Regions from separate parts of the Homo sapiens genome. Here regions 2, 3, 4 and 5 are each linked to region 1. The links come from fine-mapping of genetic effects on gene expression. A gene starts in region 1. Each other region holds a variant in brackets. All regions are shown on one strand. Distances are from middle to middle.

Region 1 (5,099 bases):
TTCTCAGGGGAAGAGGTGATGGGCCACAGGCCTTCGTGGGGTGGGAACTCAGGCTCCCCGTGGGCCCTGGACGGGGTCCTCATGTCCTGTGCTCCGTCTTGGCAGGAGTAAGAGTTGATGATGTTCATGCTCTCCCAACTCACCCATCTCTGCCATGGTTGCTTTTTTTTTTTTTTTTGGTTAAAGCAAGCATATTTTGCTGTTGCAAAAAGAAACAAAGAAAAAAATGATTTTCAACAGGACCCTGACATGTCTGAGAATGTCTCACTGTCAACAAGGCTGTAGGTGGTGGTTTTACAATTTTGGCGGAATCTGTTCTAAGGAAAACACGTGCTTCTTTTAATTTGGCCTCCCAGCTCCAATGCACGTGGCCGTCCTTGCTGAGAGTCTTCTGGGTGCCTGGAACTGTGCTAAGTCCTGGGGGATTCGGCGAGAGCTCGAGTTCTAGAAACACATGGAAGAGTTCAGAGGATGTTGGTGCTATGAAAATAACAAAACCAACCAACACACTGAGGCCCTGGGGGATGTGCCTGGTGGTCCCTGGGGGAGGGCGTTCAGTATTATTCCTGGGTCCTGCATTTGAGTCAGCCAAGTCCAGCTCATCTCGATGACATTTGGGCGGGGATTTCCCCTGCAAAGCACTCTTATCCCCAGCCTTGCTTGCAGAAGCTGGGAAGGGATTATCATCCCCTCACCGTTTTTTTTTTTTTTTTTTTTTTTTGAGATAAGGTGTTGCCCAGGCTGGAGTACAGTAGCTTGATCATGGCTCACTGCAACCTCTGCCTCCCAGGTTCAAGTGATCCTCCTGCCTCAGCCTCCTAGCTAGGTGGGACAACGAGTGTGCACCACCACATCCAGCTAATTTTTGTATTTTTTTTTTTTTTGTAGAGATGGGGTTTTGTCATGTTGCCCAGGTTGGCCTCGAACTCCTGAACCTTCTCACGTCGGCCTCCCAAAGTGCTAGGATTATTTTCCCCTTTTATTGAGGGGAGGAAACTGAGGCCCAGTGATGCTTCAGTGGAGACCAGCTTGCCTGGGGCTCACAGGAAGCTGTTCACAAGGTTCTTGGGGCTCTGTCCCAGGCTGTCACCTGTACTGAGGGCTGGTCCTGGGCGGGGACCAGGCTTTGGGGGCAAGAACTTGCACCTCCTTGTTACTTCCACTCCAGGCCTTCCCCACGGAGCTCACCTGTGGAGAGGTTTCCTCTGCCAAGCATTTCATCAGGAAACAGTGAGTGAGGGTGCGTCACTCACTGCTCTGTCAGCGTTGAACATTTGGGTGCAGGAAGATGCCTTGGCTCTTTGAGGTCCCGATGGCAACTTGCATCCCCAGATCCATCCTCAGAGGCCCGGGGCTGGGAGCATCCCCGGATCCATCCTCAGAGGCCCGGGGCTGGGAGCATCCCCGGATCCATCCTCAGAGGCCCGGGGCTGGGAGCCACCACCGCCCAGCTCCATGCGTTCCCATTGGCGGGGTCTGGGTCTGCGCTGATGAGGCGCTCGTCACTCTTATCCTGGATTATATTCACAGGCGGGTAACTCGGGGGGTGGTGTGATGGGGAGACACAGGAGGGAGGAGCAGGGAGGGCAAGATGAAGGGGAGCAGTCTGGGAAGGGGGCGACTCCAGGCACAGCCGCACGTCCCTGGGATTTTCAGGGGGAGCTCTGGGGGTTCAGAGTGGCCTCTAGTTTGTCCTGGTCCAAAGCAGGGAAGCTGGGCTACGTCCTGCCCAGGTCAGCCTTAGGTTAAGGGCTGCCTGGGGGAGGGAACTTCCTGGGCCTTCGGGTCTCTGTGCACTGGGGTGGCTCCTGTGGCCCAGAATGCCCTGGAGAAGGGTCCTACTGGAAGCGAAGGTGCAGGGCAGCAGGGCCTGAGGCGCAGGAGCTGGTGGAGGCTCCCAGCACAGGTCGCCGCCCCAGTCACATCACTGCTGATGGTGGGGGGACTTGGGGAGTTTCCCCCGAGAATGGGAGGTCTCACAGTCCCCGTGCTGCAATGCTGTCGGTGCACTGTGTCTGCAACGTGCTCATGGTCACTTGCTTTTTCTCTGTGGCCCCGGCCGCTTTATCCAGCAAGTAGCCCCCTCTCCTCTCCGGAGAAGCCGAGCCTGGATGCCGCTGGGAGGAGGTCACTCCCTTCCTGTCTCGAAGGGCATGCCGTCCTCGTCCTTGCTGACTCCCAGAGGCCCAGGGACGTCTGAGGGGGAGGGGCCGGGCCTCCTTGACCCCTGCGTGTGGACACCATGTGACTGGGGTGTGGTTGACTCTCTGTGTCCGATTGGGTGCTTGGCAAACACAGAGAGTTTTGTCCAAGGCCACCTTGGTCCCCACCTGTCCAGGTTGGGAGGTGCCCTGCCTGGTGTGGCCTGAGCTGAGCGCCTCTGGCCGGAGCAGACGGCCCCGGCTCCCCCAGGACATGTCACCTGGAGAGGTGGCCCTTTCAGGTAAGGGACATGCCCATTGGCAGCAGCCTCTGCCCCCTCCCTGCATACACAGCTGCTCCCATCTGGGGACCCTCACCCCACGTGCGGATGGGCTTCCCCAGGAAGTCGGCAGGACTTTCCCTGGCCTTCTGGAAGTCCCCATCAAGCAAATGCTCTATCGATGACTTACTCTATGACGGGGTCCAGAGAGCTAACTCCCCACCCACGTTCGAAGTGATCTTCAAACCGCTGCGCGTGGAAAACAAGCCCAGAGCTCAACGTTCCCTAAGTGAGTGGCCTTTGACAGCAGTGCCAGGCAGCCCAGTGGGTGCAGGGCACACCACAGATGGAGGAAGGGCCAGGCATGCTTCCCAGACAGCCTCTGCCAGTCCAGGCAGGGGCTCCAGGGTGGCTGCGGGAAGGCAGCTTAGGCGGTGCCCGGCCCAAGGTGAGTTGGCATCATGCTCCACTTCCCGTTTGAACGTGTGGTCCCGTTTGAACCTTCTGGAAAGGCTTGGCAGGGAGGACACTCATTTTGTAGACTGGGAAGGAACTGAAGAGCTGGCTTCCGGCGACCAGCGATGGGCCCCAGATCCCTGTGGCCAGGAAGGCCCCCATTGCTGTTCTCTGTAGCTCAGGCTGGACATTTGCTGGTGAGAACTGGCCGGACTCCCAGGACCCAGCCGCCAGAGACCTCTGTTCCTCACGCTCAGCCCCCTAGCTCCAACTGGGGCCCCTTTGCTTTACAGGATGTAGGCTTGGAGTTAGAGGGGGCAGTTCTGGCGGTTTATCTCTCACTCACAGAAACTCGGCTGTGAGAGGCCAGAGCTGGACTTGGGGGGCAGAGCCTGTAGAGGTCAATGTGTCCTTATTGGGTGTGCACACGTGTGAGTCTGTGTGCACACACATGTATACATGTGTATGCGTGTGTGTGTGTGTGTGTGCGCGCGTGTGGCAGTCAGAGAAGGCTGGGCAGACACTGTTATTTCAGAAAAGATGTGGAGGCCTTTCTGAAGGCATCCACTGAGAGGCAGGGGCCAGGATCTCTGTGCCCAGGCGCTGGGCGTGGCCCCTGAGAAGTGCTCTCTCCCCTAATCCTTCAAAGCAGGAGGTATTTGCTTCACTTTCTAAGGCAGGATCTGCGGCTCTGAGAGGTTGCACAACTTGCCCGAGGTCACTCAGCTAGTAGAAGGCAGGACTGGCCTCCGGTCCAGGGTGACTGTGAGGATGTCAGGGGACCCTGCAGGCCTGTGCGCCCCAGCTTAGGGCTACAGGTCCCACCTAAGGCTTCTTGATGGAGGTTGGAGGGGCGAGCTGGAGGGAGGTGCTGCTGGGGGTCCACCGGTCCCCTTCCTGGGGGATGAAGCCGGTTTCCCGCGCTGACCCCCTTGCCATCAGAGGCCCAGAGCGCGGTCCTTGTGCTGCTGAGCTGTGTTTGGGGCCGCCTGTGGGCTGTGGCCGCCTGTCCTCATCTTCTCCCCTTTTCTCCTTGGCTTTTCATCCTCAGGCTCCGTCCTTCTTCCCCGTGGTGGCCCCAGCCTCCCTGCCAAGCTTCCCGGCCCCCGCCCCATCCCGGGCCTGCTGCTGCGGAGACCGTGGGCCGGCGCTGGACGGCGCGGCCTCCAGAAGTGATAGCTAATTGGGGAGAGAAAGGGCCCAATTGTCTGGCGGGGCCGGAAGAGCCGCGTGGGCTGCTGAAAGCGTCGGGAGGAGGTGGCCGCTTCGCCCAGCAGCTGCCGCCGGGGATGTTTGCAGATTACGTCAGCGCTGGCGAGCAGGGGGCGCGGGGACAGCGAGGGGGGCGGGCTCCCGGCGGCCTCCCGCCCCCCAGGCCCCTGGACAATGCTGTCATTGTCAGCACGGAGAGTGGTTAATTCTGGATGAATGGTACACGGGCCTCTTGACCAAGGAGGCTGCTCGTCGTCCCCAGTCTGTCCTCTCACATGCCAGGGAGGCCCCGGGCTGGAGTCTGGCGGGCAGATCTGGCCTGCTTGGTGGCACCAGAGAGAACAGGGCGGTCCCTTGGGGGCGCCGGCTGCAGAGGCCCCAGGCTGGACGGAGCTTCCTGTCCTGGGTCTGCACAGCAGCCACTTGGCAGTGCCGGGCTAGGGTGGCAGGGCCCCACTGCATCTCGGTTCCAGGGCAGAGGCTGCTGCTGCCCTTTGGGGCTGACTTCAGGCATGACCTCCTGGCCAGGTGGCAGCTTTGGCCCTGACCCGCTCCTGGCCCTGCTGGTGGTGATCCTGCTAGCACGCCTCATCCTGTGGTCCTGCCTCGGGACCTACATCGACTACAGACTGGCCCAGCGGCGGCCCCAGAAACCCAAGCAGGACTAAGCCTCTGCAGGCTGCGGCCTCCACGCGCCCTGTCCCGAGACTCAGCCGGCCCTTCCAGTGGTGGTGGGAGGGAGGGGAGCAGGGCAGGCGCATGATCCCCATGTCCCACCCCTGGGGCAGGAGCTCAGAGAGGCCTGAGATGGATCGTGCCTTCCCAGACTGACCAGGGCTGTCCCGTAGAGGCAGCTGGCCATGTGGGGAGATGGAGGGGCCGGCCTTGCAGGTCCATCACCAGGTTCTGGGGTCCCCGGTTGCAGGGAGTGGTCCTGGGGGTGGGTCTTGCTTTAAGACCTTCTCTGCCTCCAATTCCTTATAAATATGCCTGCAGGAAGAGCTGGGTA
Region 2 (5,099 bases), 69 kb before region 1:
CTGGGAGGCTGGCGGAAGGCAGTGCCGGGCCGGCTCACTGCTCTGTCGGTAGGAAGGTTCTTGGGTTCGGACGGCAGCAGGTTCCTGAGGCCAGGGAAGTACAGGGTCGGGGTAAGAAGCCAGAGGCATCCCCTTCTTTGTACAGCAGGGAGCTCGGGTGGTGTGGCTGGTGGCCCTGCCTGAGCATCCTTCCCTCCCATGGCAGAGACTGTTTGGTAATTTTTGAGTCTCTCGTGTTTTCTGGGTTGTGGATCTCGTTGAGAAAGTAATGACAGAAATTTAAGAGGCGCAGGGCTTTGCTCCAGGGACCCCAAAGCCTGCACAAGCCCTGGGATGAGGACTTGGTCGAGGCTCCTTTCTTAGAGGAATTTCAGGGACTCACAGCCACATTTGCTGAGCGAGAACTGTGGGACGCCCCGGCCCCTCCCTGGGGGCCAGCCTTCCAGCTGAGGAGCCCATCTGCTCTGCCTGGTGGCCGGGCTTGGGCAGGAGAGGGGCCTGTGACCAGGCAGGCCCCAGATCCGCGCCGTGCAGAGTGACAGGAGGCGCCCTTTGCAGGAAGCCCGGCCACACTTCAGGCAGTTTTGCCATTTTATTCTGACCACCTTGACGTAGGGACCACTGGGGTGAGAAGGTGTCTCTGGGGCCGCAGGGTGCTCTGGGCTGGACCCCAGCTGTGCCTCGCGCCTCTGGAAATAGACGCTGGGAAGAGAATCTTGCCTCAGGTGCTGTCTGCCCAGCCCCCTAACTTGCACAGCAGAGGAAACTGAGGCCCAGAAAGGGGACCAGGTTAGCCCAGGCGTGTACCCCTTCCACTCTGCTGACGCATGTTAGGGACAGGCCTGGGGTTGGCGGGCAGCCTGTCCCCTAACTGTGGCTGCCAGGGTACCTGGGGGCAGGGCCCTAATTCCCTTAGGAGCTCCATGACCACGCCTGCCTGAGCCCCACTGTGTCTGTGGACCCGCCAGCCCTGGGGGAGGCCAGCTGCGTGTGTTTTGAAGTAGCAGCCAGGCTGGAATCCCAGCCCTGGGCAGAGGGTCCTGGCCTCACAGTCATCCTCTGGCTTTGCGGTTCTGTCTGGGGAGGGTGGTGGTGGGTGCACCCATGGGTGGGGCTGATCAGTCCCCGGCTCCTGGCCCGCCAGGTGGTCTACTACGTATTTGCCATCATTGGGATCAACTTGTTTAGAGGCGTCATTGTGGCTCTTCCTGGAAACAGCAGGTGAGGTGGGGTCCGAGGTGCCACAGGGAGTGTCTCAGGGGTGCTGGGGTGGGCGGGAAGCCTTGGCGGTGGCCTCAGTGGGCTCAGCATCTCAGGATGGGAGGGTGTTCTCCCAGTTCCTTCGTCTCCTCCCTCCACCCCCTTTTCCCGACCCCCAATTTCCACCTCCGCTCCGCACCTCTCCTAGGAGCCCTTGCCTGGAGTCTGCTAAACACATTTCTCGTGGCCTGCTCAGAGCAGCACTTTCCCTGCCCTCTGAGCCTCTGTATCCCAATTTGTACCTTCAGGCCAGGCTGAGCACGCCAGCAGAGGAAAGGGGTGTAAGGTATCAGGCCTCAGAACCTGGAGCCCCCGCCCCTGACCCAGGTGTGTTGTGTTCCCCAGCCTGGCCCCTGCCAATGGCTCGGCGCCCTGTGGGAGCTTCGAGCAGCTGGAGTACTGGGCCAACAACTTCGATGACTTTGCGGTGAGCCCTGCGCCCTGTCCCAGCACCCTGCTCCCCGGGCTCCTCCCCTCCCTACCTCCTGGGCCCTCCTGGACCGCTGGTCTCTGCCCCCGCAGGCTGCCCTGGTCACTCTGTGGAACTTGATGGTGGTGAACAACTGGCAGGTGTTTCTGGATGCATATCGGCGCTACTCAGGCCCGTGAGTCCTCGTCTCCCTGACGGCAGTGATTCTCCGTGCAGCCTGGGGGTTCCCTCACCTCCGGGCACGCTGCATCTGCACTGGACGCCCGGAGCGTGGCTGGGACGGGGACTCGGGCCTTGACAGGGAAGTCGGCCAGCGTGGCATCCTGGCTTGCCTTGTCCCTGCCCCCTGCATAGCCACATCGTGACTCTCAGGATGGTGGCCAGTGACTCTGGGTTTACACCTCCTGGAGGTCGTTGGTGTGTTTGGGGCTTCTGAGGAATTCCATGGGGGTGGGGGAGCCCCGGGAAGGCTGAGTGAACGAGATAGTTCAGCTCTGAGCTTGAAGAGCTCAGACTGGCCCCAGCTGATGGTCCTGGGTTTTAATCCCAGCACCGCCTCCTGCTGGCTTAGCTACCTCGGCAGCTTGTTGCACGTTTCTAGGCCTCAGTTGGGTTGTTTCTGAGATGGAAATAGTAACGCGCTCTGCATCATGGTGTGTGTGGGCCGGCTGCCCGAGAGCTGTCCTGGCCACGCAGCAGTGGTGTTTGTATCGAGTGCTCTTGCTTTGCTCATCGTGGTTCACAGGGTGGGTCTCTGTCCTCCGCAGGTGGTCCAAGATCTATTTTGTATTGTGGTGGCTGGTGTCGTCTGTCATCTGGGTCAACCTGTTTCTGGCCCTGATTCTGGAGGTATCAGAGATCCCCACCCAGGCTGTTCTCCATGGTCGTTTGTTTCTAATTCACTCTCGATGGGCCTGAGGCCACCGGCCGGGCCTGCCTGGAACTTTGATGGGAGAGTCGTGCTGGGTTAGGCGGGTCCTGAGTGAGGCTGAGCCCCTCCCGTGGGGCTCAGTGCTGCCCGCCCTGGCTGCTGGGGCCTTGGGGAGTGCTCCTGACATCTGGGCTGCTGGGGCCTTGGGGGGTGCTCCTGACATCTGGGCTGCTGGGGCCTTGGGGGGTGCTCCTGACATCTGGGCTGTGGGGATTCTCAGGCCCCCAGGTCGGGCTGAAGGAGGGACTTGGACATTGGCTCCAGGAGGAGCCAGCAGCCTCGTGGGGCCTGTGCCTGGGTGTCCAGGGTGAATGGCTCAGCCCCCTCAGCGGGTGCCCTGTGGCTGACCCTGGAGGGGCCGGGGATGGGGCAAGGCTGCTTTCATTCGGGGCCCACACTC[A/G]CTGGCCACTCCTCCTGCTTGCCAGAACTTCCTTCACAAGTGGGACCCCCGCAGCCACCTGCAGCCCCTTGCTGGGACCCCAGAGGCCACCTACCAGATGACTGTGGAGCTCCTGTTCAGGTGTGTGGGTGGGGAAGGCGCTTCTGTCTGGCCCCCTGGGATGGGAAGCCAAGAGCTGGGGGGTGGAGGGGTTGAGGCGGCGGGCAGGCCCTGATGACTGTCCTCCCCCTCCGCCCGGTTATCTGGCTTTGGTCCTGTGCTCTAGGAGAGCAGCTCAGAGCCGGGATCGGGGCGGCTTCTTCTTCCTGCCACTGGCGTCATAGCCTTTGTCCTGCTCTCCTGCTCTTGGATTGGGCATATTTAAGGCACCATCCTTCAGGGTCCATTGGATCCTGTTGGATGTAAACAAGGGACCTGAGGAAAACGCACCCATCTCTTCTCCTGGCAGCTTTGAGATGGTTCCTCTGCTAGTCCAGAAAAGTGACCACCCAGAGGCAGCCCTGCTGTGGGGCCTCTGTGCCTTCCACCAGGGGCTGCCGAGTTGCTGCAGCCAAGCCCTGCGGTCCTGCCAGCCAGTGGGAAGACGTGGCCCCTGGGCTTTTAAGAATGCCGTGTAGATATTTCTAGTGGCTACATCCATCCTGAGGCTCATCTGAGTCCCCGTGTCTCTGTGTCCCTGTGACACTCACTTCGCATGTGTTGCTAAGCTCTGCTCCCTTGTTCTTGTGGGCAGGCCAGGGTCTCCCTCCTTTAGAGGCCCCTGTGTGCATCTTTCCTCAATTCCACAGGGATATTCTGGAGGAGCCCGGGGAGGATGAGCTCACAGAGAGGCTGAGCCAGCACCCGCACCTGTGGCTGTGCAGGTGACGTCCGGGCTGCCGTCCCAGCAGGGGCGGCAGGAGAGAGAGGCTGGCCTACACAGGTGCCCGTCATGGAAGAGGCGGCCATGCTGTGGCCAGCCAGGCAGGAAGAGACCTTTCCTCTGACGGACCACTAAGCTGGGGACAGGAACCAAGTCCTTTGCGTGTGGCCCAACAACCATCTACAGAACAGCTGCTGGTGCTTCAGGGAGGCGCCGTGCCCTCCGCTTTCTTTTATAGCTGCTTCAGTGAGAATTCCCTCGTCGACTCCACAGGGACCTTTCAGACAAAAATGCAAGAAGCAGCGGCCTCCCCTGTCCCCTGCAGCTTCCGTGGTGCCTTTGCTGCCGGCAGCCCTTGGGGACCACAGGCCTGACCAGGGCCTGCACAGGTTAACCGTCAGACTTCCGGGGCATTCAGGTGGGGATGCTGGTGGTTTGACATGGAGAGAACCTTGACTGTGTTTTATTATTTCATGGCTTGTATGAGTGTGACTGGGTGTGTTTCTTTAGGGTTCTGATTGCCAGTTATTTTCATCAATAAGTCTTGCAAAGAATGGGATTGTCATTCTTCACTTCAGCACAGTTCTAGTCCTGCTTCTCTGGAGTAGGGTTGTTGAGTAAGGTTGCTTGGGTTGTGCATTGCACAAGGGCACATGGCTGTGAGGTGTATCCTGGCGGGGGGCTGTCTACCTGCAGTGAGGGGCACCTTTTCTGTTTTGCTCAAAGGCATGTATAAGCCAATGGGTGACCTTATTTCCTGTGTCTTCAGGTGTGTGGCAGGGGGCCTGGGGTGGGGAGGTGGGGCGAGCGAGCAGTGTGTGGAAAGCCTTGTTGTCACCTGAAGCACGCCAGGTCCAGATTGACCAATGGTTTTCTCACTTCAGGGGCCAACCCACGCCCCCTTTCTGCTGAGGTTTGGGTGCCATCTAGTGGTGGGATGGGACTTGGTTGACTACATTTAAGGTAAGGTGGACCCAGCAACTCCCAGAAACAACTCCGGGGACACCACTCCCCATCACACTCCACACCGAGCCTGGTGCCCGGTCTGTGCCCGAGCTCAGCGGGACCAGGAAGGGATGGGCCCTGCCAGGGTTGCCCCTGCACTGTGCATTCTCGCCTGGGAGGCACAAGTTCTTTCATCTGCTTTTCCTTCAGAGGTGCTGAGCCCACGCCATAGCCCCTGTGGGATGGTGGGGGAGGGGGCGACCCGAACAAC
Region 3 (5,099 bases), 28 kb before region 1:
TAGACAATAAAGTTGTGTTGAACAAGAGGCTATTTCACATGGCTTCAGTATTTTTAATTTTTTTTTTTTGAGAAGGAGTATCACTCTGTCGCTTAGGCTGGAGTGCAGTGGCACAATCTTGGCTCACTACAACCTCCACCTCCCGGGTTCAAGCGATTCTCCTGCCTCAGCCTCCTGAGTAGCTGGGATTACAGGTGCACACCACCACGCCCAGCTAATTTTTGTGTTTTTAGTAGAGACAGGGTTTCACTATGTTGGTCAGGCTGGTCTCGAACTCCTGACCTAGTGATCTGCCTGCCTTGGCCTCCCAAAGTGTTGGGATCACAGGCGTGGGCCACTGCGCCTGGCCCACATGGCTTCAGTTTTTAAAAATTAAATTTAATGAATTTTTCTGCAGGTCTGTAGTAGGTGTATGTACCTGTGGGGTCCATGAGATGTTTGGATACAGGCATGCAGTGTGAAATCAGCACGTCCTGGGGAATGGGGTATCCATCCCACAAACATTTATCCTCTGAGTTACAAATAATCCAATTATTGCTTCAGTTTTTAAATGTAAAATAATTAAAATTAAATATATTTAAAAAAAACCCCCACAGTTTATGAGTCTCACCAGCCATGTACAGAGTGATCAGCAGCTGTGTGGCCAGGGGCTGGTGTGTGGGTGACGCTGGCCCAGGCGTCATCTGTGTCCTTCTACCCTCATCAAACTGCACCTGTCCAGGGCCCTGTCCCTCCAGCCTGTGCCTCTGCTGAGTGGCCCCTGGCTCACCTGAGGCTCTCAGGCACACTTGTCTGTGAGAGGCTGAACCCCACCTCCTGTTTAGAGGCATTTAGTGGACATTCGAGGGCTGATCAGATGGGGCTTCAGGCTTCTCAAAAGGGAGGCAGGCAGGGGAGGGGCTTTGCCTCAGAGCCCTATCTGCTATGAGGTTGAGGAGGGCACACAACCTGGTGGGGTCTGAGTCCTTGGGCTGGGTGCTTTGGGCCACATGCAGCCCCTCTCTGGGCCTGTCCAGAGGGCTCTGATGTCCCCTCGAGCTCCAGTCTGTCTACCTAGTACTTGCCAGTGCCCATAAGTCAGGAGCTGGAGTCCTTCCCAGAGACCTAGCAGCACCAGACGGTGCCTGGCGGACAGACGGCCCTTCTTGGTGGCCTGGTGCATGGATGCGGGTGCTGGCCTCACTGTGGAGTGCGGTCCGGAATGGCCTTTGTGTCTCACCTGCCGCAGGGGTCTGACTCTGACCTTCCTCAGGGACCCTACCATTCCAGGGTTCTGTACCCCATGCGGCGACTGTCCAGCCTTGCTTGAGGCCCACCTCTCCCCATATGCTGATGACACCGTCGTCCTGACAATAGCCTGAGAGGCAGGTCCTGTGTGGGTTGTACTCTGTGGATGGGGAGACTGAGGCACAGAGAGGTGAAGAGATTTGCCCGGAGTTGCAGAGCTCACGAGTGGCAGAGCTAGGAATCGGACCGGCTGCCTGGCTCGCATGCTCCTGAGAACTGCTGAGCGACTGTCCCCTCTGATAGCCAAAACCCTGGCTCTAGTCTTGGCTGTTCAGCCTCCTGGTTGCAGCTTCAGTGTCTCCAACTGTACCATGAGTGAATGGGACCCTCTGATGGCTAAGTTCCATCCAGCTCTGAGAGCCTCTGCATTGCCTGTTACTTTTTATTTTTAAAGTGATTTTGTTTTGGCGAGGAGGCTGAGGGAGGGTGAGGCCAGGTGGGTGGGAAAAAACATGAAATCGCTCAGCCCCAGGCCCTCCTAGCAGCTTAGTCCCTACAGATTGACGGAGGCCTTGCACACATTTCCCAGAGGCCGTGCTGGGAAGCCCGCCCAGCCGGATCCCGGCGCTTGGAAAAGCCCACTCTGTGTCTTGGCACTCGGGCCTTACAGCTGCCGGGGACTGGCTGCGTGAGGTCCTGGGGCTGGCGTGGCTGCGGCCGGGTGGGTGGGTGGGGGGGGGGTGTGCCGAGGGGCA[T/C]GCATCCATCACTGCCAGCAGCTTGCGTGGGCCCTGCCAAGTCGTGGGGGAACCGAGCCCAGGTGCCAACGTGCTTGGTAACTGGCTTGCTATTTGAAAAATTAAAGCGGTGTCAAGAATATCTAACCTTTGCATTCATATCAGGAGTCTGGAGCCGGGCGGGTGGCAGCCAGAGTGGGGCTGTTTGTGCAGGGCGGCCAGTGGGAAGGCACCCTCGGAAGGAGCAGATTACAGCAAAGAACATTATCCACCCAGCACCCAGGAGGAGGCACAGGTGATAACTGGGGAGGGGGAGCAGAAAGCACAGGCGAGCTGACCTCTCTCTAGCTGCTGGGACCCCTGCAGGAAGGCAGCCTGGTGCGCACCTACTGTGTGCCGGGAGAATGTGCCAGGTGCTGGGGTGGATGGAGATGGGGTGGCACCTCCAGGACACACTGCGCCTGGGCCCATGATACTTGCAGGGACCCACAGTGATGTTTTAATGTCTTTTAAAATCAAAAGAAAGAAATGAACTTTTAGGTTGAAGAAATGATGGTTAATAATGTCCCCACATATGACCTAAAGTGATCTACAGATTCAGTGCAATCCCTATCAAAATAGCAATGACATTCTTCACAGAAATAGAAAAAAAACAATCCTGAAAGTCATATGGAACCACAAAACACCCCAATAGCCAAAGCAATCTGGTGCTAAAAGAACAAAACTGGAGGCATCACACTACCTGACTTCAAAATATACTACAAAGCTATAGTAACCAAAACAGCATGGTACTGGCTAAAAACAGACACATAGACACATGGACCACAATAGAGGGTCCAGATGCAAATCCATGCATTAATAGCCACTTGATTTTCAACAAAGGCACCAAGAACATGTGTTGGGGAAAGGACAGTTTCTAATAAATGGTGCTGGAAAAACTGGATATTCACATGCAAAAGAATGAAGTTGGACCCATACCTTACACGATACACACAAAAAGCTCAAAATGGATTAAAGACTTATTATGAAACTACTAGAAGAAAGCATAGGGGAAACACTTCAGGCTATTGGTCTGGGCAAAGATTTTATGGCTGAGATTTCAAAAGCCCTGGCAACAAAAGCATATAAAGAACTTGAACAACTCAACAGCAAAAAATCCAAATAAGATTTAAAAATGGGCAAGTATTCTAAATAGACATTTCTCAAAAGAAGACATACAAAGGGCCAACAAGTATATGAAAAAAATGCTCAACATCACTGATCATCAGAGAAATGTAAATTAAAACCACAATGAGGGCTGGGCGTGGTGGCTTACACCTGTAATCCCAGTACTTTGGGAGGCCGAGGCGAGTGGATCACTTGAGGTCAGGAGTTTGAGACCAGCCTGGCCAACATGGTGAAACCTGTCTCTACTAAAAATACACAAAATAGCTGGGCATTGTCATGCATGCCTGTAATTCCAGCTGAGGTGGAAGGATTGCTTGAACCCAGGAGGTGGAGGTTGCAGTGAGTGGAGATCGTGGCAGTGCACTCCAGCCTGGGTGACAGAGCGAGACTTCATCACAAAAACAAAAACAAAAACAAAAAACAGAAAACAAAACCACAGTGAGATATCTCATCCCACTTAAAATAGAAATAAAATTATCAAAAAGACAAAAACAACCAAACAACAAATGCTGGTGAGGATACAGGGAAAAGTAACTCTTATACACTCTTAGTGGGAATTTAGAATAGTGCAGCCATTATGGACAACAGTATGGAAATTCCTCCAAAAATTAAAAGCAGAACTACCATATGACCCAGCAATTCTGCTAGTGGGTATGTATACAAAGACTAGGAGATCAGCATGTGAAAGAGACATCTGCACCCACATTCTCACTGTAGTGGTAGTCACAATAGCTAAGAGATGGAATCAACCTATGTGCCCATCAATGGATGAATGCATAAAGAAAATGAAGTGCAAATACATAATGGAATACTATACGGCCATAAAAAAGAATGCAATTCTGTCATTTGAGGAAAAGTGGATGAGCCTGGGGACCAGGGAATGGGAAGGGTGACGGGGAGAGGGGAATAGGGAGAGATTGGTAAATGGGTACAAAATTACAGTTGGGCAGAAGGAATGAGCTCTAGTGTTCTATGGCACAGTAGGGGGACTACAGTTAATAATTTATTATATATTTCAAAATAGCTAGAAGAGAAGAATCAGAATGTTCCCAACGTAAAGAAGAGATACATGTTTGCGGCGATGGACATACCAGTCACCTGCTGTGATCGTTACTTGTTGAAATGGGATCATATACATGTATTGAAATATCACATGTGCCCTATGAATATGTACGTTATTATGTGTTAACTAAAAAAAAAATCCCCACAAAATTCACATCCACTTGGAGCCTCAGAATATGACCTTCTTTGGAGATAGGGTCTTTGCAGATGTAGTCAAGTGAAGAGGGGGTAGTTCTGGAGCAGGGTGGGCCCTGACCCCATGGCTGGTATCCTCATAAGAAGAAGAGATCCAGAGACACAGGCCGGGAAGACCATGTGCCGATGGAAGCAGAGGTTGGGGGGATGCGGCCATAAGCCAGGGAACGCCAGGAACCAGCAGAAGCTGGCAGGGGCAAGGAAGGACCCTCCCTGAGAGCCTTCAGCGGACCCAGCCCAGCCGACACCTTGAGTTTGGATTTCTGCCTCCAGAGCTGTGAGAGAATAATTCCCACAATTCTGAGCCACCTGTGGTAATTGGTTATGGCGGGCCCAGGAAATAATACAATGTATAATATTGATCTGTCTCTACTCCGGCATAGTTAGATCAATAGAATTCTTTGCAGGGTGCAGTGGCTTATACCTGCAGTCTCAGCACTTTGGGAGGGCTAGGCAGGTGGATCACATGTGGCCAGGAGTTTGAGACCAGCCTGGGCAGCATAGTGAGACCATCTCTCTACAAAAAATACAAAAATTAGCCAGGTGTGGTGGTGTATGCCTGTGGTCCTGGCTACTAGGGAGGCTGAGATGGGAGAATTGCTTGAACCCTGGGAGGTTCAAGGCCGCAGTGAGCTGAGATTGTGCTGCTGCACTCCAGCCTGGATGACAGAGTAAGACCCTGTCTCAATAATAATAATAATAATAATAAAATAA
Region 4 (5,099 bases), 33 kb after region 1:
GCCTTATTTTTCTTAAAGAGCCCCTGTCCAGTTGTGTAAGCTCCAGGCTCCTTGGCGCCTGGCTTCACCCCACCCTCTCAGCATCCCCTGCCCAGGGAATCCACTTTACTGGAGTTGGGGGTAGATTCCAACCAGGACGCTTTGCCTCCCTCCCATAGGGTGGGGTGGACCCTGTCCTCCTAACCTTCGTGACCATGCAGAACAGCTGCCCCCATCCTTCAAGGACTGGCACCCACTTTTCACATGCCTCCCCTCATTTAATCCCCTTAATTTCACATCGCTTCTGTATATTTTCAGAATTATTGGTTAAGCCAAAATTGGATTATTGATCATTCCAATATTTCAGAATAATGAACACCACCCAGGTTGCCATAGAGAGATTTGAGGCAGGAGAGGTGAACACACCCCAGCTTCCCAGCCAGTAAGTGGTCGTGCTGGGATGTGAACCCAGGGCTATGGCTCCCCTGCTGGCAGCCCTAGTGCCATTGTATTCTCCACTCTTGGTCACCAGCGATCACAGCAGCCTTGTCAATAGGAACAGAAACCTTTTATGTGCACCCTCCCCTGTGCCCTGTGCCTTGCGTTGGACCACATTTCAGTCTCACAGCAGTGTTTGAAGATGGCTACACTGATTATCCTGTGTTACAGATAAGCAAATTGAGGCTAAGAGTGGCTAAGCAATACATTCACGATGGCACAGCTGATATGTAGTGAGAGTTCAGTTTTGAACTCAGGTCTGAGAGCCCCATTTTCATGACCCTGGCATCCCCAGGGAAGTCATCCCTGCCACCCCTGGATTGGTGCTATCAGCCTTCCTGCGCAGAATGTTCCAGAATGTCATCCCCTGCCCGGGAAAACTGGCCCTTTGAGTGGCTGACCAGCCCCCACTCCCAACCACTCTCCTTGGCTCTATTTGTAAAGTGAATTACTGCATTATGGGAGGAACAAGAAGGTTCTTTATCTCCACTTGGGCAAATCCATTAGGATTAGAGGCCCCTCTGAAGCCCCTCTGAGGGGGTGACGTAAGCCTGTCTTTGGTGATTTGCAGAGTGACAGCATGATAAGGAGTCCGGGCCCGTTTTAGTGGTGACAGGACATCCTCCCCCTGCAGCACCCAAGAATTAGCGGGCCTATCTCTCCATTTATCAAAGCCCTTTGGGGGATGAGGCAATCGGGCGGAGGAGTATTGCAGCCTCTCTGTCTCGGAGTCTGTGGAGCTGTCGCTTCCCGCCAGCTTGCCCAGGTCATACAGCTGCCCAGGATCTGCGGGGTCTTCGTGACTTCCCACAGTGAGAACCAACAGAAGGGTCTCCAACTGCCAGGCTTCGTGGCCCAGGTCCCTCCAGTGTCTGACCTGCATGGCCTGCCACCCTCTAGACAATGCCCAGACTTTTGCCCTGAAATACCATGAGGATGGGGATGCCATTATCTAGCAAGGGGACCGCCATGTCTGGGGAAAAATTCAAGGGTTCTGCCTGGCTCAGGCTCAGTCTGAGGTGCTAGGGAAGATGGCAGGTCCCAAAGATGATGCCCCCTGTATATCTCCCATTCCACCTGCTCTTCTTACAAAGTAAGGTCGACACTCTCCCTTTGAGAGGAAGAGTGACCCTGTCCCTGAGCTTGTGCAGACCTGTACGCTGACAGAGTATATGGCAGGAGTGACGCCCTGTGGCTCCTGAGTTGAGGGCTGAAAAGGCAATATGGCTTTCATTTGACTCTCTCTTTCTTGGAATTCATCCTCCATGTTGTGAGGAAGCCCAAGCCACATGGAGAGGCCATGTGTGGTTCTGGCCAGCAGCCCTTGCCAGGCCCGCAGCTGACATCAGCCTCAACTGGCAGACATGAAGGTGAATGAGCCTTCAGGTGGTTCTGTCTCTAGCCTCTGAGCCACCCCAGCTGAGGCCCCAGATGTCACTGGGTGGAGAGAAACCATCCCCGCTGTGCCTGCTTGACCGGCAGAAGCCATGAGAGATAACAAATGATGATTGTTGTTTTGAGTGACTCCATCTTGGGGCAGTGTTATTCAAACAGAATAACCAGAACACATGCTGCTAATAAAGACGTATCTGAGACTGAGTGATTTATGAAGGAAAGAGGTTTAATTGGCTCACAGTCCCACATGGCTGGGGAGGCCTCACAATCATGGCTGAAGGTGAACAAGGAGCAAAATCACGTCTTACATGGCAGTAGGCAAGACAGCATGTGTAGGGGAACTCCCCTTTATAAAACCATCAGATCTCAGGAGACTTATTCACAGTCACGAGAACAGCATGGGAAAGACCCACCCGTATGATTCAATTACCTCCCACCAGATCCCTCCCATGATAAGTGGGAATTATGGAAGCTACAGGAATTATGGGAATTACAATTCAAGATGAGATTTGGGTGGACATACAGTCAAACCATATCACCGTTTGTGTGTGGAAGGCAGAATAGTGGCCCCCAAAAATGTCTTCATCCTAATCCCTGAAATTTGTGAACATGTTAGGTTACAGGACAAAGGGGAATTAAAGTCACAGATGGAATTAAGGCTAATAATCAGCAGGCCTCAAGATAG[G/A]GAGACCATCCTGAATCATCCAGCTTGGCCCAGTGTCATCACAGGGTCCTTAAAAGTGGAAGAGAGGGAGTAAGAGGAGAATCAGAGGGAGTTGTGATGGTGGAGGCAAGGCACAGAAAGATGCAGTGTTGCTGGCTTGGAACATGGAGAAGGGGCACGAGCCAGGAAATGCTGGTGGCCTCCAGAAGCTGGAAAAGGCAAGGAAATGATTTGCACCCGCAGGCTCCAGAAGGAACCTGGATTCAAGCCCTGTGAGACCTGTCCTGACCTCTGGGACTGTAGAGTGATAAGTGTCTGTTACTTTACGCTACCAAGTTTGTGGTGTTTTGTTGTAGCAGCAATAACAACTGACACAGCCTCTATGTGCTCTTGGGAATGAGAGAAGGAGATAATATCAAAGAAAAAGAGGGCCTAGCTGCAGGAGAAAGGTCTTGCATAGGTGAGAGGGAATGGGGGCCAGGACCCCAGTCATAGCCATTTAATAGTAATGCCATCAGCATCATTGTTATCAGCATCATCACCACCATTGTCATCATCATTGTCACCATCATTACCACCATCATCATCATCACCATCATCATCATAATCACCATCATCATCATTGTCGTCATAATCACCATTATCATCATTGTCATCATCACCATTATCATCGTCATCATCATCATCACCACCACCACCACCACCACCATCACCACCATCATCATCATTGTCATCATAATCACCATTATCATTATCATCATTACCACCACCACCACTACCATCATCATCATTATCATCATCATCACCACCACCATCATCGTCATCACTGTCATTATTATCATTGTCATTGTCACCATTGTTGTCATCTTCATTGTCATCATCATTATGAAGACTGTTCAGCAAAGACCCCAGGAGGTAGGGCCCCATCAGGAGACAGCATTTTCCCTGCAGGGATAGGTGGCCTCTAGCACTTAGTTCAACTCTTTCCTTTTCTGGGGATGGGGGTGCAGGAGGGAAAACCTAGGATCCCATCCAAACCCTCCACATTTTATCTCTTGCTTCATTTGCCTCTTTCTCTCCTGCCTTATTTGAGAGCTGATGTCCCTCCGACCTCTTTTGGAACACTGTTGACAGACAGCACAGGGCTGTAGGAACCCACTGGCCCTGGAGCCGACTGCCTGTGCTTGAATCCTGTCTCTAGCACCAATATTTGGGTAACCTTGGGTTATTTAACCTCTCTGTCCCTCAGTGTTCCCACCTCTAGAAGGAGATGAATGCTTCTGCCTCATAGGGGAGTTGTGACTTATACCTGGAATGAACTTTGGCCTATAATGGGTGTGTGACAAGTCTCCTCAGCATTGGACAGCTTCACTGCTCTGCGCCCAAGACTGCCCTCGTCAGTGCTGGATGAATGAGGCCAGGAGGCGGGGGAAAGAATGGAGGCAGGTGCCCAAGCTTGGGTTTGGGGCAACATCGAGCTAAAGAGCCAGAAGGCAGGGCTGCATGATCCCAAACTCTACCAGAGGCTTCCTCTCCCTGACTCCAAAGTCCTTTAGCCCTGGGCAGGTAGAAAGAAGGCGGGGGCCGGAGATGGAGATTCCCGGTGGACAGTAATGGTGCCTGGCCGCTACCATGGCTGAAGTTTGCCCCTCTGGCCTTGCCTGGGGACTGGCAGTCTCAAGACAGTGGAGAGAGGCTAAACTCCATCCTGCCCCTGGTAGAACCTGACACTGGACATCAGAGGCATCTTGGAAGGTGGTGTCTTCCCGGCCTGTTCCAGGGCAGGCATGTGAGACAACTTTGCCCAAGAATGCAAGCACCTTCCTGGGTCCCTACCATGAGGGCTCATGTTGTTTACCATAGTAGTTTGCAGACATAAACAAAATAATAATAAAATTGATGTATTAAAGAAACTTTTCATTGAATGGAGTTTTTAATAGAAAACTTAGTTTGAAAAAAACAGACAGGCTGAGTGTGGTGGCTCACACCTGTAATCCCAGCAATTTGGGAGGCTGAGATGGGAGGATTGCTTGAGGCCAGGAGTTCAAGACCTGCCTGGACAACATAGCAAGACTTCATCTCTACAAAAAAATTAAAAATTAACCTGGTATGGTGGCATACGCCTGTGGTCCCAGCTACTCGAGAGGCTGAGGTGGGAGGATTGCTTGAGCCTGGCAGTTCGAGGCTGCAGTGAGCTATGATCGCACTGCTGCCCTCCAGCCTGGGAGACTGAGTGAGACCCTGTCTCTAAATAAATAAGTAAATAAATAAATGGTCCTCCCAGTGGACACAGCCCTGGCTGGAAGGTGGGTTCTTGGCTGAGTTTCAACCCCGTTCAACCACGTGATGTTGGGAAGATGGTGAGATCTTTCTGAATCTCAGTGTCTCCATCTGCAGAGACAGAGGCGCAAAATGGCACCACTACACAGCACTGCTCCCTGGGCCGTCAGGGGCAGGGTTCCTGGGTGGCGCCAGCCATGTGGGCTCATGTCCCCTGGCAATCTTGTGACGTCGTCTCCCATTTCCACCTGGACATTGCCCATCGGTCCCTCCATGGGTGGAA
Region 5 (5,099 bases), 52 kb before region 1:
ATTGCTCCAGGAGCAGGCAGTCTGGGAGACCTCAGAGGAGGCCTGCTGGCTGGTCCACTGGTTTGTCAATCACTGGCAGGGCAGAGAGTGATGAGCTGGGCTTGGAGGGGACACAGTCTTGGATATGAGCCCAGCTCTGTGGGCACAGGCACTGTGGCCCCTTCTCCACTGGCCTCAGGTTCCTGGTGTGTGAGATGAGGTGGAAGTGAGCAGAGGGGGCTCCTGGCAGGGCTGCGAGCCTCCTACCTCTGGGTCCCACATCGGTGCTGGGTCCCAATGCCCACCTTGTCTCAGGGGTGACGTCATCACCTTTTGAAGAAGCCCCAGATGGTGTTGAATAGCGATCGCCACCCCCAGTGTGCACCAGGGAAGGAGCATCGTAGACCTAGCAGATGAGGGCAGGCATGACTGAGCCCGTCCCAGCTGGGCCTGGGTACCGGAGGCTTGTAACCTACAAGATGCCCTCAGAGCATAATTTGCATACAGGTGAGGGCCTGCGACAGAGGCCCTGCATGTCCAGAGGCATGGCCAGGTAGAGTAGGTAGGCAGGCTAGACACACCTGGAGATGCTGCCCTGGGCACACGCAGTTCCTGGGTAAGCCAGCGGAGGGCAGCAGAGCCTAGCGGCAGGCGACCCAGTGCCCAGGCCCTGGTACCCTCCTTGCCTCGCTCAGCACCAGGCCTGGGAAGGCAGGGGGAGTCCCCTCCTGGCAGGAGCTCCTCCTCCTCCTGGCAGCCTTCCTGGGCCTGTGCTGGGAACCTTACAACCCTTGCCTAAGAGACCCTAGGGGAATCTGTGTGGTGGCAGTGACAACCAACACTTGTTAGATTCTAGCCAGGAGAGAGGGTAGCGTGCTTTTAGTGGGGAGAGGGTGTGATGAGGTGGGCTGCTGGCTCCCACCACCAGGCCAGCCGGCCACCTGGAGTGCAGGGTACTGATGGGGCCCTCTCTGGCTGTGGGGTTCCCGCTGGGTGGGGCTGGAGCATCCCCTGGGTCTGTCCACCTGCCAGCCACTGTGGGGACACTCAGACTCCCTTCTCCCCGGGTGGGCCACGTCAGTGCCCCCGGGCATGTGAGGTGCTCAAAAGACCCTGCGCTTCTGTGGGTATGCGACTCATTCCACCTCATTTCCCCAGAAATCCGGGTCTCCAGGAGGCTCTTGCAGTCACCCCTTGCTGGTGAGTGCGCTTAGGGAAAGGCCATTTTCAGCCTTCACTGGGGCAAAGAAAAGAGGCTCTGTGTCTGGGGATGCAGTGGGCCACTGGTGAGGGGGGTCACGCTTTGCAGACAGGGCCAAAGTCCCAGAAGGGGAAATAGGTTGGGAGCTGTCAGAGGCCAAGTTGGACAGCTCCACCTTTCCCCCCGCACTGCACAGCCCCTTCTCCTGGAAGTGGACAGGGCAGGGAGGACTGAGAGGGGAAACTGAGGCCCAGACATCCAGGCAATTGCTGAGGTCACCCCAATGTCTGTTCCTTGAGTGCAGCAGTGGCTTGGGCCCCGGGTGCCCTGCCTGTCCATCAGCTCTGCCCACGCCCCCTCCCTGCTTTTTCTCCTTGGCATAGCCCACCCAGCCTCTGGCACAGCCCTGGAAAAATGGTCAAGGAAAACTCTGGGTGCTGGGCCAGCATCAGAGCAGAGCCTGGGGGACCCTGGACCTCCGTCGGTGGCCACAGCGGGAACACTGTGTGGAAGTGTGCTGTGCATACTCATGCATCCTCACTTCTGACTTACAGAGGAGGGAGCTGGGGCTCAGAACATCCTGGAACACGCCTGCCCCTGAGTACACCTGGGCTGGCTGCCTCCAGAAACCAGGGTGGTGTTGGCCACTCTGACAGGCAAAAGGGATTGCATTTGTTTTGGGAACTGTCTGAGGTTAGAAGTCACCCAGTGAAGACAGGAGAACACGGGTGGGGGATATTGCCTCAGTCTGAGTGCCCAAAGGTGGCGGTATTAGCTCAGCTGTGGGGACAGGCGGTGCACAGCCTGTGCTCTGGCCAGGAGGAAGGGGTGCATCAGGGGCTCTGTGGCTGGAGGCAAGGAGACCTCTCAGTAGAGCTGGGAAGGAGGAGTGGGGGCCCTCCTCCCTTGAGAGGTGGCAGGTGGGCAACGATGGCCATGGCTGGGCTGGAGGGAAACTGCTGACCCACGTCACTCGAGCGGGACATGAGACTGGCCCAGGCAGAAGGGCCTGAGACCCCAGGACCCTCATCAAACGTTCACCGGCTCCTTGGGGTTTGATGAAGGGTTCGCAGGCCCGGCAGTGTGCCCCCTCTGGGAGGCAGTCTTGCCTGGCTCATCTACCTCTGGCATTTGTTTCAGTTGCCAAGAATGTGTTTGGCGGCGCCAGGGCCGATGGTCCCACTTTCCACCTGGCAAGTAGTCCTGCCGTATAACTGAAAGGCAGCGACTCCACATGACCATGGGGCAGGCAGGATGGCGAGCTCTGCTCCATCCTGCATGGGGGCAGTGGCCCCGGGAGGCGGACTCCGGGCTGGACGGGAGACATGGGGGAAAAGTGAATCTGGTAGAGGTTACAGAGGGGCCACCCACTTGGCTGGGGCAAGCAGGAATGCTTTCCAGAGAGGCCACACTTCCAGGCTGTGGGGACCCGAGCACAGGGGTGGCGAGTTCTGGCATTTATTATTATTATTTGTTCCAGAACAAAATTCAACTCCCATCCTCAGTTGGCCAATAATGTGGTAGGAACAGGTGGGAGCTGACCCCCAGATGCAGGGTGCTGGGTGCTGTGCTGATTTTCTGGGGCTGCTGTGCAAAGTACCACAGCCTGAGTGGCTTTAGACCATGGAGATGTGCTGTGTTGCAGTTCTGGAGGCCAGAAGTCCCAGGTGCAGGTGCCAGCAGGACTGGGCACCCTCTGAAGGCCCTAGGGAAGCGTCCCTCCTTGCTGCTCCTGGCTTTTTGCGGCTCTGGTGTTCCTTGGCTTGTGGCTGCATCGTTCCAGTCTCTGTCTCCCCCTTCATGTGTCTTCTCCCCTGTGTGTCTGTGTCCACATTTCTCTCTACTTATAAGGACACCGATTGTATTGGATTCAGGGCCTTCCCTGCTCCAGTATAACCTCAACTTATTACATCTGCAGAAACCCTATTTCCAAGTAAAGTCACATCTGAGATTCCAAGTGGATGTGAATTTTAGGA[G/C]CACCTGATTCTACCTTTCCAGGTGTTTTCTCTCTCACAAGCATTCACGAGCAGGCAGCTTTTTGATTTTTACGGTGAGGGGCGGAACCCAGCATTGCTTTGAATGGCCGCATGCTAGGCATTGGGAGGGGTGAAGGCCAGAGAGTGGGGTGCAGGTATCAGGAATGAAGGGATGGGGGCCAGGGAGGCTCTAGCATCCAGTCTTCCTTCTGATCCCAGCCTTGCCATTTGCAGCTGTTTGGTGTTTGGGCAAATTATTGGACCTGCCTGAACTTTAGTTTCCACATCTGTAAAATGGGCCCGTTATTTCTCTGCACTGCACTGGCATCAGTTGCTGGTTCTCTGTAGCGAATGGAGATGACAGAGTCGGTTTGTACAGGGCCAGGAATGGTGTCCTCAGAAATGTTCCGGGGGTGGCCCCAGCTTCTCCTCCACCCGCTGGCTGCACAGACTCCTTGTGCCTTGGGTGCCTCATCTGCAGAACGGGAATAACCACAGTTCCTGCCCTGTTGGCTTAAGGCGAGGACAGGTGGGAGATGGGCCCAAAGCCCTCCCAGGTGCCTGGCCCGGGGCCAGCCTTCGATGCAGATCAGCCTCCGTGCAAGTCAGCTCTGGGGCTCAGGCATCTGGAGATGGTCGGGGAGGCTCTTGCAGATCTTTCTTCTTTCCCCCGAGACCCTGGCTCCACTGTGAGTTTTGTTGGCATTATTGGAGGGCGGTGGGGAGTGAGTGGCGGCGAGATGGACCTGGTAGCGATGACAGTTGCCAGCCACATCTCCAAGGTGGACTTGGTCCCAGCCTGGCAGCACAGGTGAAGCTGGGAGTGGTGCGTGCAGGGCTCTCTGAGTAAGCGGCATCCCAGAGCCTTCCTCTTGGACACTGACCGATGGGACATCGGGCCACGCAGCGTCCACACGCAAGCACTTGCCACCAAGTGTGTCTGCAGCGAGAAGATGCCAGGGGCTTGTGTGGCAGTGGAGCTGTCAGCGCCCACCTGCTGGGTCGAAAGCACCTGTCTCTGCCCAGAAGGGAGGGTCCCGTGGTGGGTGAATGAAGGTTGGGTTGGTTTCACAGACCCCCGTCGTGCCCACTTTGCCTGTCTCTCTGTCTAGACTGAGGCCACGTCAGCTGGCAGGGCCTGTGAGCCCTCTGGCCTTACATTTCCTTGGTCTGGGCCTCTCTGTGTCACATGGCGAATGATCCCTGAGCAACAGTGCCACGTCCTTGGGGAGCTTCGGTTTGAAGGGGCCCCTCCATGGATCTTTTGTAACGTGAGCCATTGCCCCGTGGGTTGGGGTTTCCATGGATTGGTGGGGCACACCGCACCTGTGGTCAGCCCCCACCCCCATCTTTGAGTCTGGGTAAGACAACTCTGGCCTTGCCCGGCCCGGGGTGCCCCCACAGCTCATTCACCTGGCACAGAGAGGCAGTGAGCAAACCAAGAAAGGCACTTTTGATCTGGGGACGGCTGGCACGTTTGCCAAGAGCCCCCAGACAGCCCTGCCTGGCTCGAGCCCAAGACAGCTTCTCAAAGGGCAGTTCCTTTGAGAGAGACTGTTGGGAAACACCTTTGAAAAATGGCTTTGTGCAGCCGGCCTGGAGGGCTGTGGACCGAGCCCCAGGGCTCCTCCTTGGCCACCAGCCTGGGTCCCAGGACGCAGGGCCATATGGCAGGTTTAGAAATTAAGCCAGGCCCTGACATTCCTGTGTGCAGCTCCGGAGGCCCCCTCCCCGCCCCGTGCCTGCAGCCCACTCCCTACCTCTGCCAGCCCGGGGCTCAGCGCCTGCCCTGTGCTTGGGGTGGGGTGAGGAGCTGGGCTTCCACGCCAGCCGACTGGGAAGCTTCTCCAAGTGGTGAAACCCAAGGGAAAGCCGTGGAGTCTTTCCCCGCTGCCACCCGCCTTGGTTTAGTGATGCTCTGCTGGGCCACGTATCCTGCTCTC

What was found.
Region 2: its variant is fine-mapped to the expression of SMIM38 in whole blood (TOPMed, PIP above 0.99).
Region 3: its variant is fine-mapped to the expression of SMIM38 in cerebellum (GTEx, PIP above 0.99). The same link has a PIP of 0.9 or more in sigmoid colon.
Region 4: its variant is fine-mapped to the expression of SMIM38 in left ventricle (GTEx, PIP 0.94).
Region 5: its variant is fine-mapped to the expression of SMIM38 in whole blood (TOPMed, PIP above 0.99).

The regions. Positions count from the first base shown.
Region 1 is chr11:69,153,245-69,158,343 of GRCh38, forward strand. SMIM38 (small integral membrane protein 38) reads left to right here and starts at 2,691. Exons shown (of 3, transcript NM_001369201.2): 1 at 2,691-2,870; 2 at 3,930-5,099. The coding sequence starts at 4,603. The coding sequence ends at 4,758. The region is part of intron 2 of LOC338694 (a long non-coding RNA gene); the gene reads right to left. RefSeq lists silencers at 517-811, 4,057-4,416 and an enhancer at 2,245-3,172.
Region 2 is chr11:69,084,066-69,089,164 of GRCh38, forward strand. It overlaps TPCN2 (two pore segment channel 2), which reads left to right. Exons shown (of 25, transcript NM_139075.4): 20 at 1,145-1,221; 21 at 1,606-1,687; 22 at 1,783-1,865; 23 at 2,458-2,539; 24 at 3,047-3,141; 25 at 3,810-5,099. The coding sequence ends at 3,888. Among named protein-coding and RNA genes, the nearest start is that of MIR3164, 3.4 kb to the left of the region's middle. RefSeq lists enhancers at 1,520-2,021, 2,022-2,521 and a silencer at 4,688-4,827. The variant A/G (reference allele first, on the strand shown) is at 3,022.
Region 3 is chr11:69,125,303-69,130,401 of GRCh38, forward strand. No RefSeq gene overlaps it. Among named protein-coding and RNA genes, the nearest start is that of SMIM38, 28 kb to the right of the region's middle. The variant T/C (reference allele first, on the strand shown) is at 1,983.
Region 4 is chr11:69,185,971-69,191,069 of GRCh38, forward strand. No RefSeq gene overlaps it. Among named protein-coding and RNA genes, the nearest start is that of SMIM38, 33 kb to the left of the region's middle. The variant G/A (reference allele first, on the strand shown) is at 2,558.
Region 5 is chr11:69,100,968-69,106,066 of GRCh38, forward strand. No RefSeq gene overlaps it. Among named protein-coding and RNA genes, the nearest start is that of MIR3164, 20 kb to the left of the region's middle. RefSeq lists an enhancer at 1,178-1,678. The variant G/C (reference allele first, on the strand shown) is at 3,157.